Linked DNA regions of Homo sapiens. The protein of the gene in region 1 interacts with the protein of each later gene in a biochemical or structural test. Each region holds a gene or a part of one and is shown in the gene's direction. Other genes may lie near its edges.

Region 1 (7,458 bases):
GCTTTCTGAGTCTCTCTGCACAGAAAACAATGTTTTCCCCTAGTACCCCAACACTTCGGTGTCTGTCTCCCTACCTAATGGATTTACCTTTGCTTTTCCCTATCTGGTAGAATAAAACCCTCTCAAGTCCAAGCTACCTTCCCAGGAGGTCCTTTGTGAGGGCAGAAGGAGAAGCATAGGTGCAGGAGGATACAGGCTTTGGGAGACAGGCAGACCTGGGTGCAAATCTTGGACCTGCCACTTATCTAGCTATGTGACCTTGGGCAAGCACATTCACCTTTCTGAGCCACTGTCTCTCTGTCTATAAAAGGGATCAGCGGGAAAATGTGTAAGAAGGCAAACAGGACTTGGCAAACAGAACTCAATGAATGATGATGGTGGCGGTGGCGCTGAGTGCTTCTGAGTTAGAGAGTAGCCCATCCTGGAGGCCTTTGAAATCCCCACCCCTGTAAGGACTCATGCCTTAGATCCTGATGCTCCTCACATTCCTGACAACAGCCTCAGCAGGGACCACTCAACTCACTTGGTACCACCTATCCCACTCAACAGGGGCTACATCACATTACAGCACATAAAAATAACTGTTTCCCACACCATTTTCCATCCCTTGTCCCCTTTGACTCTCCCAGCTGTGAGGTAGATGGATGGTATTTTCCTCCCAATTTAATAGAAGAGACAGCTGAGACAGAGTGAAGGTAGGAGAAGTCAGGGCAAGGATTGAGCCTGGTCTTGATTCTGAATCCCCTGTGCTTTCCTTGTATCACCTGAATCTCAAGCAATACTTTGGGCTCCAGACTCTCTGAGGGGAGGAGAAGGAGAAGGGATGTTCTATGTGTGTGACTGCAAAGTCCTCACCACACCTTCTAGGCACTTATGAGCAAGGAGATACATATTATGAAATGTGGCATTTGGGAATGTTCTAAGACCACCCTAATGCTATTAAGAGTGCCGGGCGCGGTGGCTCACACCTGTAATCCCAGCACTTTGGGAGACCAAGTCGGGCGGATCATGAGGTCAGGAGTTCGAGACCAGCCTGACCAATATGGTGAAACCCTGTCTCTACTAAAAATACAAAAATTAGCCGGGTGTGGTGGCGTGCGCCTGTAGTCCCAGCTACTCAGGAGACTGAGACAGAAGAATCGTTTGAACCCAGGAGGTGGAGGTTGCGGTGAGCCGAGATCACAACACTGCACTCCACCCTGGGCGACGGAGTGAGACTCCATCCCAAAAAAAAAAAAGAGAGAGAGGGCAGAGTGGACAGAGAGTCAAATGAGAGGAGGTCTGGGTTCTGGCCATAGGCCAGCTACTGACATCCCAAGTAAACGTGAGCAAGTTTCTGAGGTCCCCATGATCCCCATGTCTGGGACATAAATGGGAAAAAGATGATAGATAGATAATAAATAGAGGCTCAGCTTAGACAAAAAGGCATCTGCAATCCTTGTCATCATTACTTTGACTTTGAAATCAACAATTTAGAGAGCCCACTACCACGAAATTAAAAAATTCTAAAATTTTTTAAAAAACAAAACAGTATAACTTAAAGAGTTCTGCCAACTTCTCAAAAAAAAAAAAATCAGAGAGCACAACATTGAATTTTTTTTTCTTTTTTTTATTTTGGCAGAGGAAGATTGAGTTCCTGGAAATGCTTACAAAATGATTCCTGACACTGGGAGGAGATAGTTAGAAAAAAGAAGAAGAAAAATTATACACATATATAGATAAAGGAAGAAGGTGGAAAGAAAGGGAATAGACAAAAGAAAATAAAGAACTAAAAGAGAAAGAAAAAAAAAGACTTTAAAGGGCCCCAATTGAAGCAACATTATCAAGTTCTCAGCATCTGCAATTCACAAGCCGCTCGCGGTTGGGGCGATGCAGACCCCGCCCCTTTCTCGGGTGTCCGGCGCTCATTGGTGGGGGAGGCAGTCGCCGGCCGGTGACTGCCCGAGGAAAGGTTGCCTGGGACACGCATCCCTGTGTGAACGCATGACGTCCCACCCTGGCGCCAGGCTGTCTGGGGCTGAGTCTTAGATCAACACAGCTGTGGGACCGGGACCCACAGCTGGGCAAAGGAGCGGATTCCTCAACAAAAAATAGGATTGTGAGAAAAGTTCTGAAACAAAAACAGCGCAGACAAAAGCCTTAATGACATCCTTTCATAAAAATAAAAAATGCAAGAGGGGGGAAAAAGCTGGTAAAAGGAGCAGAACTGGGAACAGAAAGTTCAGAGGCATTTGGAATAAGAGGCTGAGGCCCCACCACTGCTAAACAAGTTGCAGAAGGCCTGAGCTAGCCTGTCCAGTCTGCTGTGGGGAAAAAGAAGTCTCTTGGGTTTAAACACTATTCAGTGTTCCTAACCATAACCTGCTTCTTTCAGAATTAGAATCTTAGGCTAGAGAGGACCATTAAAGGGCACTTGCTTCCTCCCAACCTACCCACTATCTTTTTTTTTTTTTTTTTTTTAAAGAGAAAATGAAGCCCAGGAAGGGAGGAAATTCGTCCAAGGGCACACTGCAAATTATTGGCATGCACAGAACAGAATTTTGCTTGCTAATTCCACAGCATCCTTCTGCCTTATGTCACACAGCCCATGGGCATTTCAGCCTGGAAGCATCCTGGGAAATAATAAATGCGAAGGTGCTTTGCAAACCTAAATCACTATACAAGCCTGAGGCATCAGCTGCAGTAGTAGAGGAAGGAAAAGAAGGGAGGAGAATCTGGGTAGACTGAGCACCTTCCACACAACTGGCCCATGCTGGGTCCCCCAGGCAGTAAGAAGACTAAGATCAGATGGAGTGAACACATCAAGTGCTTTGCAGAGAAGAGGCATTCAATAATTATCGAATGAATGAATGAGTAGACCCAATTAGTTCCATTTTATAGATGGGAAAATAGAAGCACCCAGGATAACTCAGCCAAAGTCTACACAATTAGTTTAAACAAAAAAAGAAGAAGAAGAAGAAGAATGGGCATTTGCACAGAAATCTGCCTGGCCCGTGATTTTTCTAGAACCCTCTGGACTTGACCGTTTTGCCACAGAAGTCTGCAAGATAGGAAAAGAAGGATCTTCTCTTCGGTTATTCAGGAGTTCCTACAGCCATTATTTTGCCTTTCCTGACCAAATAGCTGGCACTTGACGGCTGTAGCATGTAAAGACTGACTTGCCCACTCACAGGTTTTCTTCCTCTTTTCTTACTGAAGAGCCTGTCCTTGAAAAAAACATTCCAGGAAGAAATCTTTCTTGGGCCACAGAGCCCTGTGGTTTGATGGAAAAGAACGAGGCTTCAAGACTGGCTCTGCTATTACTTGTAGTGTGACATTGGGCATGTCTTAAATGCCTTCCTTGGGCCCCTCAGCATCTTTCACCTACATATCCAAATTTCACACAACCTTGGACTTCTACAATTGGAAAGGATTTTAAATAATCACTTAGTACCATCGTCTATTTTACTCACAAGGCAATTAAAGCCAGAGTACCTGGGCTTGTTCAAGATTACATGACAAATTATTGTCAGGGCTAGCATGATGAACCCAGGGCTCTCAATTCCCAGTCAGTGTCCTTTTCAACCGTTTTGCGACTCTCTTTGGCTCTGAGCCCCCCTTGTCCTGTTAATCAGTGCCACACATTATCGAACTCTTGTTTCCTGTGTTAATCTTGTCTCCCCAAATTGTGAGATTCTTGAAAGCAGGAGCCACTGTTTTATGCGGAGGGACTCCATAAATATTCACCAATGATTCATTAGGAAAGCAACTATTGGGGGAATCCCACTTGGTCATTTCCAAAATGGAAAGCAGCATCTTGGAAGTGCAGGTCCCCAAATGTCTAGGGAGGTGACAAGAAGGCAAGCAAAGAATCAAAGAATACTGAGCACAGTGTCCTGTTGCAATACAGGACTTAGTTTGCCGGCCCTCTGGTTCCTTTCCTGGTCTTTCAGATGGAGCTGGAGCTACTTCAGCAGGGCTAAGAATAATCAAGTCCAGGTGGCCTGCCCTTCCATAGCAGAAAGGGACAGACAATAGAGCAATGAAATTACCACTGTTTTCTACACAGAGGTGTGTGGAAAGTGAAGAGAGGGGAAGTTAAGAAATTTGCTGACCCAATTGGGTGGGGGGGGGCTCTTAAAAAGGTTTATGTAGAAATTGTCCCATCTGTGCCTCCATATTTAAAACCTTGTCCAAAATTCTAATTGAACTCACAAAGCACAACTGTGCATATATTTAGTTCGTTATGGAGTTTATGGGGCAGAGGGTCCAGGCTCCTTTTTTCCCCATGCAAAAAGCATGGGCTCAAGCTTTCTTCTTTTCCCCTGTTGCTCAAATAAATAGTGTTCTTTGCTCAAACCCCCTTTCCCTCCTCCTTCTGCAATCTCAGCGCCTAGCGCAAATCTGTTTTCTTCATTGTAACCTCAGCTTCACCGCAATTAATTTTTTTTCCCTCTGGTCACAAGATAATTCCTGACGCCAGTGAGTCTGGAGGTCAGACGAACAGCAAATTGGGGAACAAGGCGGCACTAATTCCTTACAAGTTTCCCTTGAAAAATCTTTCGCTTAAAAAAAACGGGGGGTGGGGGGAGCTTCTTTGCTGTTCAGGGATTTATGACCTCGGAGGAGCTGTGGCTCGAACCAGTGTTGGGCTAAAGGCGGACTGGCAGGGGGCAGGGAAGCTCAAAGATCTGGGGTGCTGCCAGGAAAAAGCAAATTCTGGAAGTTAATGGTTTTGAGTGATTTTTAAATCCTTGCTGGCGGAGAGGCCCGCCTCTCCCCGGTATCAGCGCTTCCTCATTCTTTGAATCCGCGGCTCCGCGGTCTTCGGCGTCAGACCAGCCGGAGGAAGCCTGTTTGCAATTTAAGCGGGCTGTGAACGCCCAGGGCCGGCGGGGGCAGGGCCGAGGCGGGCCATTTTGAATAAAGAGGCGTGCCTTCCAGGCAGGCTCTATAAGTGACCGCCGCGGCGAGCGTGCGCGCGTTGCAGGTCACTGTAGCGGGACTTCTTTTGGTTTTCTTTCTCTTTGGGGCACCTCTGGACTCACTCCCCAGCATGAAGGCGCTGAGCCCGGTGCGCGGCTGCTACGAGGCGGTGTGCTGCCTGTCGGAACGCAGTCTGGCCATCGCCCGGGGCCGAGGGAAGGGCCCGGCAGCTGAGGAGCCGCTGAGCTTGCTGGACGACATGAACCACTGCTACTCCCGCCTGCGGGAACTGGTACCCGGAGTCCCGAGAGGCACTCAGCTTAGCCAGGTGGAAATCCTACAGCGCGTCATCGACTACATTCTCGACCTGCAGGTAGTCCTGGCCGAGCCAGCCCCTGGACCCCCTGATGGCCCCCACCTTCCCATCCAGGTAAGCCTCGAAGTCGGGACAGGGCTGAACACCCAGGCAAGGATGCTGCGGGACCCTCGGAGCTCCCGATTGCCTCGCGTAACTCTTCCCTCTTTTCCTCTAATCAGACAGCCGAGCTCACTCCGGAACTTGTCATCTCCAACGACAAAAGGAGCTTTTGCCACTGACTCGGCCGTGTCCTGACACCTCCAGGTGAGTATCTCCTCTCTTGGAGAGGGAGGTTTAAACGGCAAGTCCTGGAGTTGGCAGACGTTTTGAAAAATTGCCACTCACTCGGTTTAGGGAAACTGAGGCCAGAGAGGGACAAGTGACTTGCCCATGGTTGCATCAAATGAATGGCAGAGTCAGTTTCCATGTGATGTGCATTTAAGCCTTAAATGCGCCTGGGCCCTGCCCTCCCGCAGTGGCCGAGGGTCTGGCAAAGTAGACATGGGTCCGACTAAATACAAGTCTTTCTGTTCCATGTTGTATAGGGAGCTGTCTTCGGCAGCCCCCTCCCAGCTAGTGTCAATTCCAAGTAGGAGGGGTAGCGCAAGCTCCGCCTGTGGTCTTTGGCGCCAACTGGGTGGGGGCAGCGTGGGGCGCGGAGTTATCAGCTGGAGGTACAGACCAAGTTTCCTCCCTGGCGCCGGCCAGTCTGCGGACGGCCCCCGCCTCGGCACGCTCGGCGGAAACTGACTGCTCCTTGGTCTTCTTTCCTCCCCCGCCCAGAACGCAGGTGCTGGCGCCCGTTCTGCCTGGGACCCCGGGAACCTCTCCTGCCGGAAGCCGGACGGCAGGGATGGGCCCCAACTTCGCCCTGCCCACTTGACTTCACCAAATCCCTTCCTGGAGACTAAACCTGGTGCTCAGGAGCGAAGGACTGTGAACTTGTGGCCTGAAGAGCCAGAGCTAGCTCTGGCCACCAGCTGGGCGACGTCACCCTGCTCCCACCCCACCCCCAAGTTCTAAGGTCTCTTCAGAGCGTGGAGGTGTGGAAGGAGTGGCTGCTCTCCAAACTATGCCAAGGCGGCGGCAGAGCTGGTCTTCTGGTCTCCTTGGAGAAAGGTTCTGTTGCCCTGATTTATGAACTCTATAATAGAGTATATAGGTTTTGTACCTTTTTTACAGGAAGGTGACTTTCTGTAACAATGCGATGTATATTAAACTTTTTATAAAAGTTAACATTTTGCATAATAAACGATTTTTAAACACTTGTGTATATGATGACACCCGTCTCCATTAAGTACTAATGATGCTTTCTCGCACATGGCCGAATTTTGGGAGCTTTGGGAAAGTGAACTTGCTTATTCTACGAGAGGGAAATGAAAAACTGCCTGGTTGAGAGGGGATGGGGTGGAGAGAGAAGGGTTCATGATGGGAGTCTCATGTCCATTGAGGGATGGGTGCAGAGAAAAGTTCTGGGCTCTGCTCATTATTTCAGAGATGAAACCAGAGACTGGTGCAAGCTTGCCCAGCAAGTTGGTGGCTCAGGCAACTTGAAAGTTGGTGGCTCAGGCAACTTGAAAACTGAGTTTTCATGTCCCTTGAGATCTAGCAGTAGCTTTCCTCTTTATTGTTACTATTGACTATGCCTTTCTAGCAGGGGATGTGGTAAGAGGAGAGCCTCAAGTTTGCTTCACCTGGTGCCCAGGCATGGGTGGTGGTTGATAGACCAATTCCAAAAATGAATAAACTGATAACTGGGCCTGGTTTCATTTCCTTCTTGCTCTCTGGGCTGGCTTCCTTGCGGGCTTCCAAAGTTGGAAAAAAGAGGGAGGTCTCCTGAAATGGATAAAGATTTGGATGCTGGTTGGGAAGTACTGATAGTAATCCCTTCTTTAATGCTAGGTGGTTGTGGAGTCCGACCCTGAACAAGGAATGTGAGGCAGAGACTCCACAGTCCTCATTTCTGCTGGTATTTCTACATCACCTCCATTGGGAACCTATTCTGTAAGCATCCCTATCCCTATTTCAGAAATGGGGAAAGGGAACCTCTGTGGGTAATGCTTCTGAACCAGGTTTTCACAGCCTTTGAGAGGTAGAGATGGGATTTGAACCGTGACTTGATTGTGGTGAACAGGAGCAGGGCTGGGGACTGGCCATTCCTTGAGGCCAGGCCTGGCAGTGGGGCAGAGAGCAAG
Region 2 (4,760 bases), on another chromosome or scaffold:
TTCATCTTAGAATAAATTAGTGAAGAATTTAATTTTAGAATAAATAATCCAATCTGAAATAATTATACCTTCTTTCCTTGTTAGGTAGTTATGAGTAAATCTGCAAAAGGCAATGAAAATGCCTTAAATTTTATCAATAACAGAATTATTGTATTTAAAAAAAAACTAATACTTATCTTTAAAATAGTAAATAGGATTTTAAACAGAGAATTTTATCAGTAATAGGTGTCAGTTTTTAAAAAATTGCTTGTAGGCTGAGCGCGGTGGCTCACGCCTGTAATCCCAGCACTTTGGGAGGCCAAGGTGGGTGGACCACATGAGGTCAGGAGTTTGAGATCAGCCTGGCCAACATGGTGAAACCCCATCTCTACTAAAAATACAAAAATTAGCCGGACGCAGTGGCACGCGCCTGTAATCCCAGCTACTCAAGAGGCTGAGGCACGAGAATCACTTGAACCCGGGAGGGAGAGGTTGCAGTGAGCCAAGATCGTACCACTGCACTCCAGCCTGGGTGACAGAGTGAGACTCTGTCTCCAAAAAAAAACTTTGCTTGTATATTATTTTTGCCTTACAGTGGATCATTCTAGTAGGAAAGGACAATAAGATTTTTTATCAAAATGTGTCATGCCAGTAAGAGATGTTATATTCTTTTCTCATTTCTTCCCCACCCAAAAATAAGCTACCATATAGCTTATAAGTCTCAAATTTTTGCCTTTTACTAAAATGTGATTGTTTCTATTCATTGTGTATGCTTCATCACCTATATTAGGCAAATTCCATTTTTTTCCCTTGTGCTAAGGTAAAGATTTAATTAAATAATTTTGGCCTCTCATAGTTTTCTCTCTCTTTAAAGAGAATAAATAGAGGGCCAGGTGTGGTGGCTCACGCCTGTGATCCCAGCACTTTGGGAGGCCAAGACGGGCGGATCATGAGGTCAAGAGATCAAGATCATCCTGGCCAACATGGTGAAACCCTGTCTCTACTAAAAATACAAAAATGAGCTGGGCATGGTGGGGCGTGCCTGTAGTCCCATGTACTTGGGAGGCTGAGGCAGGAAAATTCTTGAACCCAGGAGACGGAAGTTGCAGTGAGCTGAGATCACACCACTGCACTCCAGCCTGGTGACAGAGCAAGACTCCGGCTCTTAAAAAAAAAAAAAAAAAAAAAAAAAGAGAGAGAGAGAATAAATAGAAAAGAATGTGGCTGGGAATTGTGAATCAGAAGATTATACCCCCCAATTGTTTTTCAATCCCCTTTTCTCAAATAATAAATTAGTTAAATCAGTTTCTGAGTTATGCCACTGGCTGATGAAGAGTTGAGAGGTCTCTTTGCAGAATGATCTTTTTGTTTCGTTTTGTTTCTTCTTCTGCATTTAAAAATTAAAAGATTGGTTTGAGGATGTGATGAAATTGAGACTTTTTGTGGTTTTCTCTCAATAATAAGTGAACCAATTTCAAATGTGATCACAAAGTTTGGAAAGCTTTTATTCACAGAGGTTGGGTAGTGTTGGGAGGGGAGTTTAATTACTCAGATTGGCCTGTTATTTGATTTCCTCCTTTGGGAAAAGAATTATGTAGATACCACATGGAGACAGGGAAACAATTGTGGTAAAACTGTGGATCCTGTTGCTATTTGCCCAGTGAGAAAACAGATTCTGGTATTTGATTTGGTTTTTCTCTTTGTTTCCAGAATGGATGAAAGTCCATGAACCTCCTAAGTTATAATTTAAATTTGTTTGGGGCAAGGTGATTTTATAGTCGAGACAGAGCCCTAGGTCCTTCCTGCCCCATCACTCACTTACGACATCACTTCCATTGTGTGCATGTTTGTTATAGAGGAGGTTTTAGGCTACAATATTTGTTTAACCTCCCTAAGAACTTTCAAGGCATCTGTCCTGAAAGCTGTTAATTTATGGTCTAGCAGATTTATATTATATGCAGATAATAATTAACTGGGGATAAAAGAATGGCAAGGGGTGACACAAAGTAGCAAACTGAATACTTCTCCAATAGCAACCCCAAGCTACCTCCTCACCCTGCATCTTGGAGGGAGGCAGGAAATTTCTTTTGAAATAAAGTGCTGGAGCTGAATTCTGCATTATTTATCGTTGCTGCTGAAACCACCTATAAAAGACTTGCTGGCTAATGTGCATTGTCATATAATGTACACTGTCACATCTTTACAGTCTTGTATGTTATAGAATACAAAATAAGTTGATGGTTTTGTTTGGTGTGAGCTTTTTGTTTGTTTGTTTAGTTTTGCCTTCATAGGTTATATGCCAAGATAGTATTTGATAAGTCAATGACATTTGGATGTTTTCTTCAAAGAATTTTATTTGACCCAGATTTCTTATAAAGTTATCTTACATTAAGGATGTCATTTTCATCAGACCTTCTTTCTACATATTATTCATGAAGCATAATGTTGCATTTCTCCAAATTTTATGCCTGAAAGGGTAGTGTTGCTTCCTAAGGTATCATGTTGTCTTTGTGCTTTGTCCATCTCTTCCGTGGCGAAGCTTTATATCTGTTCCTAAAACAGTTAATCCTGTGAAATAAATATTGAACATAATCCAGAAGAATCTCTCTGTTTCCCTTGGGGAATGCCATATTTAATTCACCAGCAGTAATCCTTTAATAACTGGCAGAGCACTTTATTCTTCTGGTGAGCTCCCTGAATATTTATTTTTCTGATTATAAATTTTCTATATTAGTAGCATTTTTTAATTATTACTTCTTCACTATAGAGCATTTACTTTTAGTCTCTAGATGTATATTTTGGAATGCTGTACTTGGCATAACATAGATTAAAATCATAATGCATGACTAAAAACTCCTTGGATTTATTTCCCATTTTAAAATTTTTAGCGGTAAGTTCAGATTTATAATCTTTCTCTAGACTTCCATGGTCTGAATGTTGCCTGCTGAAGTAGCAACCTAAAAAGTATCCCCTGCTTATGCTTGTCCAGTTGGCCCTCCATGTCCATAGGCTTCGCATCTGTGATTCAGCCCACTGTGGGTCAAAAATATTTGGGGAAAAAAATGGATGGTTGCGCCTTTGCTGAACATGTACAAACTTTTTTTTGTCATTAAACAATATAGTATAACAACTATTTACAAAGCATTTACATTGTATTAGCTATTATAGGTAATCTAGAGATGATTTAAAGTGTATGGTAGGATGTGCATAGGTTATATGCAAATACTACACCATTTTCTATAAGGGACTTGAACATCATGGACTTTAGTATCCTAGGGGGTTCTTGGAACCCATCACCCATAGGGGCACCATAGGACAACTATAGTACCGTGTTTATTTCCTATTAATTCAGGTTCCGTTTAGAGTCTAAAACTAAAACCTAATCATTTAGTCACAGTGTAAAAACAAATGGAAATAACAGCTCAAATCTTCAAAATATTACTATAGCATTATGTTTAAAATAATCTACAACAAAAATGTACCATTTTCAAGCAGTACTACATTAGGAGCCCTTTTATAGAAAATAATTTCTTCTTTACCCCCGTTCCAGTGTGAATCTAGTATTCTGTTAACATTTGTGTGGCATTTGGAGTTTGTCATCCCCATTGAAGGGAGAGCCTTCTCAGACATGAAGCAAGGGAAACATACTGAATAGTTTTACACAAATTTGATCTGGCTTCCATTTGTCCCCCTCATTTCCCAAATGTTTAAATGTATTGGATTTGGATTCTCAATGTATAAGTTGCCTTATCTGTTAATGTCTATCTTCTGTCTCTTTAATTTTGTATATCTGCTGTTTTGCTTTTGGATACATTTTCTAATTAGAAGTCACATGATAAATATAATCAGTATAGTAATAATACCATAATGTGCACATACTCAATAAATAAATGACTGCATTGTTGTAAATGAGCTCTCCTTTTTGTTGTTGTTGGTTGGCGAGTGGTTTCCATCAAGTCATCATGGGAAAATAATCAAGTTCCATATTCACAGGTTAGGATAGGATGTAATAATTCTCAGAAGAACCCTTCTAGTATGATATTTGCTTATCAAAATGTCTCAGAAACAAAATATTTGAAAATACTGTCACATTTATTGTATTTCTCTCTGTTCTTATGCCGTGCATGTAGAATGTACCCAATGTTTATGAATTAATAGATAAATAAGGTCTATTGTCTTTTGAAAATATTTATTGCTGAAATGATTTATTGGAACAACCTGTCATATCAAACATCATATTAGAACATAATCAAAGAACATAAATCATCATCCATATTTCCACATTTTGCATTAGATATTGGGATGCTTAACTCATCTCAATCTCATTAACTGACTATTCCACAACTAGGTAGGCTCACCTCTGCCTCATTTGTTTATTAGTTTAAGATATTTTTCCAACTGTATAAAGTTAAGACAGATGTTTCTGTTGCACGCTCTATGTTGGGAATAAAAGAGAAATTCAAGTCTATTTGCTCACAGTATATTAAACTCCAGAAGCCAAACTTTTAAGAGCATCAAGTCTGCATCTGACATTTTAATAGCTGCTGTTTGGTTTCTATCAATCACGTCATTGCACATTAAAATGCACCGACAAAATAAGAGATCTGTCATTCCTTCGTTAAGAAACAGTAATCCAGTACAAGATTTATAGGCTTAAGTCTCAACCGTGTGTTCACAATAAATCCCCATTCAGTGCTCAAACCAGAGCAAGCCTCCCTGTCGTTCAGTGTTTTCTAGTCGAAATGTCCCCAATATAAGATTATCAAAGGTTTTCTTACAGA
Region 3 (7,978 bases), on another chromosome or scaffold:
TGAAGGGCAGGCTCTGGGGCCGCAGAATGGGGTTTGTGTACCAGATTCTTCATATGGCAGCTGTGGGACTTTGGGCACGAGGCCTCCGTCTGAGCCTTAGTTTCCTCAAGAGGACCTGCGCCCAGGTGCACCTGGGGCTCCAGCCATGGGTGCGTCCCATTCCGGGAAGAGCTGGCACACACTTGTGCCCCCGGGGCAGCCATGAGTGCACAAAGGGCAGCCTGTGCCACTGCTGGATACACGACCAGCTGAGAACACGAGGACCGCCGACTCCAGTTAGGAGGATCAAGGAAGTGCCTGGTGGGAGCAGAACAGCAGGTGGGGTGCAGCCCAGCTCCCTGGAGGGATGGTGGGCACCCATCCTCACCCTGCTGCCTCCATTAGCAGGCCGAGAGGGTGTGCTCTGGAATCCCATGAGCACCTGTGCCACATCCTCCCCTGTGGCTGACCCTTCTTCACAGTTGGTGCAGCTTTGTGGTCTGTAGTGCAGGGATCAATTGGCAAATCCCTTTCCCACCCATTCCCTGGAGAATTGGGGTCCTTGGCTCAGATGACAGACCAACCTGAGTTGGAATCCCAGCTCCTTGGTGGCCGTCCTGGCCTCCACCCCCTCACTGCCTCCGCTCCTCCTATCCTGCCCACGCCCACTGCAGGGCCTTTGCACACACTGTTTCTTCTGCCCTCCCTTCCGGCCCACTCCCTCATATCATTCAGTCCTCCTTTCAGATGTCACCTCCTAAGATGGGCTGCCCTGACCACCTCATCTATAATGGCCCCAGTGCCTGGCACAGGATTGGCACACAGTAGATATTGTCAGAGATGGATCTGGGTTCTGTGGACAAGGCTGTGGGGGCAGGTGAAGAGCTCCCTCTTCCAGGAGGTTGTTTGGGGTTCAAGGCCTTGTTTGGGTTGTAGGCTTCTGTGCTGGTCAGCGTTGGGCCCTACAAGCGCATGCCATGAGGCCTGCCCAGGATTTCCCTCATGGCCTCACAGAATACATCGGCCAGAGTCATTAAAGGGCGCCTGCATCTGCCTTCAGAGAGAGGTTTGAAGGTAGAACTGGGGAGGGATGCCAGGTGGGGGTTCAGGTTTCCTGTTGGGTCCTGATAGAATCAGGGCAGGAGAGGAAGAAGAAGAGGGAAGAGGAGGAACCCAGGCTTGGGGAGGGGTGGCAGGGCTTCACAAGCCTGGGGAAGGTGAACTAGGGAGCAGTTGGGGCCACCATGGCCCAGAGTCTATGCCTCCTCTTCCTTCCTGTGTTCAGAGTGTGTGTGGGAACCACAAGGGCCTTCTCAGTGTTCATAGGGAAGCCCGGTTCACCCATGGGTGGGCCGCAATTTGGGTGCCACAGTGAGCCCCTAGAGACCAGCTCTCCCAGCTTCCAGGACAGGGACTAGGGGAGGCAAGAGAGGCTCTTCCTTAAATTGTGCACCCAAGGTGCCTCAGCTGCCTTACTCTAGACTGGCCCCGTTAACTCCCCTTAAAAAAAAAAAAAAAAAGACTCAGTCGAATGGTAATGGAGCTCCAACGTGAATACTGCAAGTATCAGGCAACTCACTACCTGACTTTCCAGTTCTAAACCATTCTAATTGCTGTAGAGAGAACTAACCTTTGTTGAGACTGTTGAGTGATGGATGTTTTACACACTTGCTTTCCCAGAATTCCCACCTCTGGAGATCGTAGGTGTGGGAGCTCAGAGGGTGGGGAGTGGACTGTCCCCATCACACAGCAAGGGAGGGGCTAAAGGAAGAGCAGGGCCTGGCATGCAGCCCCAGATAGCCCACTTGGGTGTGTCTCTGAGGGAGGCTGCAGGGCTGGCTCTAGAGTTTCCTTTTTCAGTCTTAACCTGGTGACCAGCTTCCACAGAAATTGGCACGGTGACTCATGCCTGTAATCGCAACACATTGGGAGGCCGAGGTGGGAGGATCACCTGAGGTCAGGAGTTCGAGACCAGCCTGGCCAACGTGGTGAAACCCTGTCTCTACTAAAAATACAAAAATTACATTTCATTACAGGTGTGGTGGCGCACACCTGTAATCCCAGCTACTCAGGAGGCTGAGGCAGGAGAGTCACTTGAACCCGGGAGGTAGAGGTTGCAGTGAGCTGAGATCGTGTCACTGCACTCCAGCCTGGGTGACAGAGCCAGACTCTGTCTCAAAAAAAAAAAAAAAAAAAAAAGAAATTGGCCAGTAGATCAGCCCCAGGGGAGAGTGAGCCAGGGTTTGGCCAGGCCTTGAGTTTCAGAGGCTGGCCATGGCCAGTGGCACCCAGGCCCTTCCCCCTTCCTCGGGGCATCTTAGCTTAGTCTGTGCCCTCTGCCCAAGGGCCAGCCCTCTGTTCCCAGGTCACACCCCCTCCTCTTGGAAGGCCCCCCCCGCCCCACCCCCATCAGAGTCTTTAATGACTCTGCTGCCCCTGGGGCTCAGAGAGCAACCGCCCTCTCCCATCGCGCTTCCTCAGTGGGATGGGAGGGGGTTAGAGCAGGAAGATGAGACAAATAAAGACACAATAAGAGGCAGGAATATGTGGTAAAGCCAAGATGGGTAAGGGGAGGGGACAGGCTTGACTGTTCACAGTGGCCCTGGCCCTGCTGTCTCAGGCTAGTATCTGCTTGTTGGTCTCACCACATTCTAGGCTCAGAAACTGGGGAGCAAAGTAATGAAAGAACCAGGCTGGGAGGCCATGGGGAACTCATGCCTGGAGTTCAGCTCTCAGTGTGCTTTTGGGTCAAGGACGCTTCCCTGTCTTAAGTCACTCATGTCAGAGCCTTTGCCAAGAGCAATGCTGTGTTTTGTTTTGGGGGTGAGGGAACACCCGCGGGCTGAGGGGAGGGTTGGGCCATGCTAGAGAGGCCGTCTGTTGTCCTTGAACCTCCCAAAGCTGGGAAATAAGGGCCTGGGCTGGACGGCGGTGGCGAGGACAGGTTGCGAGAGAGACATGGCTGGGTTTTCTTGCTTAGGGTCCTGAATAGAGAGCAAGGTTGAGGCCGCAGGGACCCCAGCCCCCAATGGACTGCTGAGTCGCTGGGTCTGCCCAGGGTTCAGGCACCCTCTCAGGTTGCAGCCAACTGGGGTGTGGACCAGGCAGAGGCGCTGGCCTGCAGTTTGGGGCAGAGGCAGGCTTTGCTGGTGGTCTACTTGGCTGCAAAATCAACTGGCCAGGCTCTGATCACTTTGTGTGTGTGTGTGTGTGTAACTTTTACCTTTGACAAAAGAGGGAAGACAGGCCCAGGCACCTCCTCAAAAGAACCCTAGAGCCTGTCACCCCTTCCTTACCCATCTTCTGTCCTAGGGACTGCAGCCCTTCCTGGCTTCCCAGGGCCCTACAATGAATAGTGGGTCGGGACTCACTTGGTGACTGCTGGGTTGTGAGGCCTTGAGGGGGAGGGGCAGACTTCACCCATCTGGCAGAGGGACATCGGTGCTGGCAGTCAGGAAACCCTTATTTCCAGGCCTCAGTTTCCCGGAAGTGACCTGTTTTCAGGAGTGGCCTCATCCCAGACCATCAGCCCCGCTGTGGTGAGGGGTGGCCCCTTCCTGGGGCTGCCCTAGAAGGGGGAGGTCCCTGCACCCACCGCAGCTGCCACTCGGCAGCCCTTGGCCTTAATTAAACGCTTCTTGCGTACTAAGTGCTGCACCCATATTATCTCCCTTCTACCATTCGACGCCAGGGAGATAATGACTGTCCTGTTTTCTGGAGGAGTAAACGGAGGGTTGGAGCGGTTAAGGCTCGCTCAGGGTGCCAGCGAACCAGTGATTTCGAACACAGAGTTCTGGTGTGTTGGGCCAGGACTTCTCTGCTTTGACCCTTTAACGAAGGGGGCGGGAGCTGAGGGCCAGTGACCGCCAGTAACCCCGGCAGACGCTGGCACCGAGCGGGTTAAAGGCGGACGTCCGCTAGTAACCCCAACCCCATTCAGCGCCGCGGGGTGAAACTCGAGCCCCCGCCGCCGTGGGGAGGTGGGGCGGGGGCCGGGGCCGGGCCCTAGCGAGGCGGCAGCGCGGCCGCTGATTGGCCGCGCGCGCTCACCCCATGCCCGGCCCGCAGCCCCGAAGGGCGGGGCGGGGCGGGACCTGCAGGCGGGGCGGGGCTGGGGCGGGGCTGGGGGCGGGGCGGGGCGGGGCGGGCGCGCCGCAGCGCTCAACGGCTTCAAAAATCCGCCGCGCCTTGACAGGTGAAGTCGGCGCGGGGAGGGGTAGGGCCAACGGCCTGGACGCCCCAAGGGCGGGCGCAGATCGCGGAGCCATGGATTGCACTTTCGAAGGTATTTTTGGAGGCCTCCCCACCAGCCCTTTATACAATGCCTCCGTCTCCTGCAGGTTCTCCTGGGGTGGGCGGGCATGCGGGCTACGCAACTTGAGCAGGAAAGAGCCCCTTCCCGAGGGAGAAGGTGTGACAGTTACCAGCTCGCTGGGGAAGTGGAGGGCTACCTCCAACCAAATTAGTGTCCCCTGCAACTCAAGGGGGAAGGGTTTGCTTAGAGACCCAAAAGCAGCATCCCGACCTAAGAGGGTTTGGAGGGAGAGGGTGGTCTTCTCTACATTCTCTGCACCCGCTTTGGGACAGGACCAGGAGGAAGCAGGGAGGAGGGCCCGTTGTCCCTCTGCCACAGCGTCTGCCCTATTCAGCACCCCTGCCTATTGTGGGCATCTTAGACTTTTCAGGAAGACAGTGGGAGCCCTAGATTGTCAAAATTGTCAGTTTTTCTTTCAGGCCTCAGTTTCCCCCATCTATCGAAGAGGCTCACACGGACTGGGGTAAAGGGATGGGAAACCCTGCAGTTGAAAGTCCATTATGACTTGATGACTTGTGACCTGGGGGGTCCACAAACCAGGAGAGTTTCTACTTGAGAAGCCAGGAAGACTGGGGCTGCCACCCCATCCTGTTCTGCCAACTGCTCTAGGAAATTCCCCTCCTGCAGTAGCTTCCCTGCCTGGGTACCTGTCAGTAGGCAATGTTGGGTCTCCACTCGGTGCCAGCTGCCTGCCAAGCAAAGCCTCGGGCAGCCGTACCAAAAGGGGTTTAGTCTTTTCTGTTGTACAGATGAGGAAACTGGGGCCAGTGAGAGGAGGCTGTTGGTCCAGGCTCCACTTCAAGCTGGTGGTGGGCAGGGCTGGGAGCTCAGGCTGGGGATCCTGAGAGCACTGGAGGCCCCCATGGGTCCTGTAGAGCATTCTGACCCAGTGGGTGCCACCACGAGTGGGTTAGAGGGCCCTGGGCTGAGCCAGATAGGCTGCTAGTCACCAGCTGGGGGAGAGGGCCCTTGGCCAGGTGGGGCTGAGGTGGGAGTGTGTCCCAGTCTGTATGAGGAGGAAGGAGTCAGGACAGACAGCACTTGCTTTTACAGAGATGAAATCAAAGCCCTGAGTGGCCAGGCCTGGGTCTTGAGGCTACTTGGCTGCAGGCAAAGCCTGGACTTGAGCCCAGAACTCTACACAGAGACACACTGGTTGGCCATGTGGCCAGCAGCTGGCTTGGCCCTAAGCCTTGGTCTGTTCCACTGAGTAATGGGTTGGTGATGGCAGCCTGGCTCTTGGCTTCTTAGTGGGGCAAGAAAAGGCAGAGAGACAATAGATTTGGGATTTTGTAGACCTGGGTTTGAACCCCACTGCATGCTCTTGGGCTGCTTGTGGTCCTCCCTGAGCCTCAGTGTCTTTTCTTGTCTCCAAGATGAGGTGAGCTAATCTTTTGAGGTAGTCTAGGGTAGTGGCCAGTGGTTGGGGCATTGGAGTCAAAATAGGGTCTGGACTCAGTTGAGTCTCTGACTCTATAAGAACTTAGGCCAGTAAGTCACCTCTCTACAGCTCAGTTTCTTCACGTGTAGAATGGGGCCAATGATCACATCACCCTCTCAGCTGTGGGTGAGGATTAGGGGTCTAGCCTGGCCCCATCAATGTGGGTAGCCCCACAGCGGGCCTGGCTTTTGGACCAGACCCACCCTTCTGACATGGGCCCCCACCCTTAGAGTCCTTCTAGTGTGGATGAGGACCCTGCTCTGATCTGGGGTCCTCTTGGGGGACTTCCCTGTCTGCCATTCTCTTTGGGGATCCTGCGCTGCCCTAGGAAGAGTGGGCCCAGGCTGCACAGTTGGTCCTTGGTCACAGAGGATCCCACCACTTCTTCAGGGCCTCAAGGCAATCCTGCCTCTCTCTGCACCCCTCTTCCCCCTGTAAACTGAGGGGAGGGGAAAATCACCCACTCCTCAGCAGTTTCTAAGTTGCTTTGTCAAATTCAGTGCCCAGAGGATCCTGCTGGGGGTGCGTTTTAGGATGAGACCAGGAGTGGCCAATGGTGGGGTGTGGGGCCCATCGCTCCTATATGAAGACCCCCTCTGCCCTAGACTGCTCCTCCCTCCCCATCCCCATCTCCATCCCAAAGACTGGAGCTGCTGGATCTGTGGATGGAGGCGTGCCCCCCGTTTCACACATTGAGAAACAGGCCCCAAGTGGAGCCAGGGAAGGCTGCACCTGGGCCTCTGGATTCCTTTTGTTCTGTGTGGGGTTGGGGGTGATGGACTGTGGAGAGGGCAGGAGAGCTGTCTGGAAGGGTTGGTCACCTCATGGGCAAATGCTTGGAAGCTGGTCTGAGTCCACGGTGCAGTGTGTATGTGTGTGTGTGTGTGTGTGTGTATGTGTGTGGACTCAGAGGTGGATGTCTTGTAGAATGCATGCCCCATGAAGACAGGAGTAAAAGTTTACCACCATCCACATCAAGCTACAGGACACTCCCAGCTCCCCAGAAAGTTGCTTAGTTCTAGGCAGGGATTTCCCTTATTCACAGCCGGGAGCAGTGCCTGGCATAGTGTGGGCACTCAGCACTCAGCACATGCTCACTGGATGAGTGAATGAATGTGAGCCTGCTGTTTGCTGTGGACTAAGGATGTTTCTAGATGTTTGGGCAAATACCGGATGGTGGGAAGAGCTCAGGCTCTGAAGTCTGCAGTCTTGGGCCCGACCCTGGGCTCAGCCCCAGCCTAGCTGTGGGGCAAGATTGTGAGCCTTGTGGTGCCCACCTTGTCCAGGTATTGTGATGCACTCGCAGCAGCAGGCATTGCTTTAGACAGCACAGGTGCTCGCAAAATGGCTGTATGTCCGGGAACACCAGCTCCTGTGGGTGGCTTTCTGTCCTGGTGGCATTGCCCACACATACAGCTGTGTGCCAACAAGGGTTGTGCAAATAAGGTTGTGTTTGGATGTGTGTGATGCCCTGTTTGGGGGTCAGTCTCTGCCTCACTCACGCACCCTCTTCTCCTTTTCACAGACATGCTTCAGCTTATCAACAACCAAGACAGTGACTTCCCTGGCCTATTTGACCCACCCTATGCTGGGAGTGGGGCAGGGGGCACAGACCCTGCCAGCCCCGATACCAGCTCCCCAGGCAGCTTGTCTCCACCTCCTGCCACATTGAGCTCCTCTCTTGAAGCCTTCCTGAGCGGGCCGCAGGCAGCGCCCTCACCCCTGTCCCCTCCCCAGCCTGCACCCACTCCATTGAAGATGTACCCGTCCATGCCCGCTTTCTCCCCTGGGCCTGGTATCAAGGAAGAGTCAGTGCCACTGAGCATCCTGCAGACCCCCACCCCACAGCCCCTGCCAGGGGCCCTCCTGCCACAGAGCTTCCCAGCCCCAGCCCCACCGCAGTTCAGCTCCACCCCTGTGTTAGGCTACCCCAGCCCTCCGGGAGGCTTCTCTACAGGTAAGGGGGATGTGTGGCGGGAGGGGACACCCGGGGTGGGGCTTCCAGGAGCACAGGAAGAAGCTTCTGCTGTGATGTGAGTAGAGGTCTGTGCAGGCTTTAGAAACTGGGGCTCCACTCGGCTGCTTGAGATGCCCTGTTACTAGCAGTCCTGGTGTGCTTGTTGCCGGGGTAGGCGCAACCTCGCACTGGAGGCCTGGCTTGAAGCCAGTGCATTTGCATCAGAGCCCAGGCAGGGACTGTCCATAGGAAGCCACATGGGGCAATGACTCATCCAAGGCCAGTC

The links.
Region 2: the proteins of ID3 (region 1) and PDLIM5 form a complex in vitro, tested with the Homo sapiens proteins (one study listed by IntAct).
Region 3: the proteins of ID3 (region 1) and SREBF1 form a complex in vitro, tested with the Homo sapiens proteins (one study listed by BioGRID).

What each region holds. Positions count from the first base shown.
Region 1 is NC_000001.11:23,557,004-23,564,461, reverse strand, and holds ID3 (DNA-binding protein inhibitor ID-3), read left to right. Parts: upstream 1-4,960; 5' UTR 4,961-5,035; coding exon 5,036-5,335; intron 5,336-5,442; coding exon 5,443-5,502; 3' UTR 5,503-5,527; intron 5,528-6,046; 3' UTR 6,047-6,536; downstream 6,537-7,458. UniProt on the Homo sapiens protein: Transcriptional regulator (lacking a basic DNA binding domain) which negatively regulates the basic helix-loop-helix (bHLH) transcription factors by forming heterodimers and inhibiting their DNA binding and transcriptional activity.
Region 2 is NC_000004.12:94,664,336-94,669,095, forward strand, and holds the end of PDLIM5 (PDZ and LIM domain protein 5), read left to right. Parts: 3' UTR 1-1,689; coding exon of another isoform or gene 1,690-1,691; 3' UTR 1,692-3,888; downstream 3,889-4,760. UniProt on the Homo sapiens protein: May play an important role in the heart development by scaffolding PKC to the Z-disk region. May play a role in the regulation of cardiomyocyte expansion. Isoforms lacking the LIM domains may negatively modulate the scaffolding activity of isoform 1.
Region 3 is NC_000017.11:17,819,804-17,827,781, reverse strand, and holds part of SREBF1 (sterol regulatory element-binding protein 1), read left to right. Parts: intron 1-4,151; exon of another isoform or gene 4,152-4,174; coding exon of another isoform or gene 4,175-4,264; intron 4,265-7,260; coding exon 7,261-7,692; intron 7,693-7,978.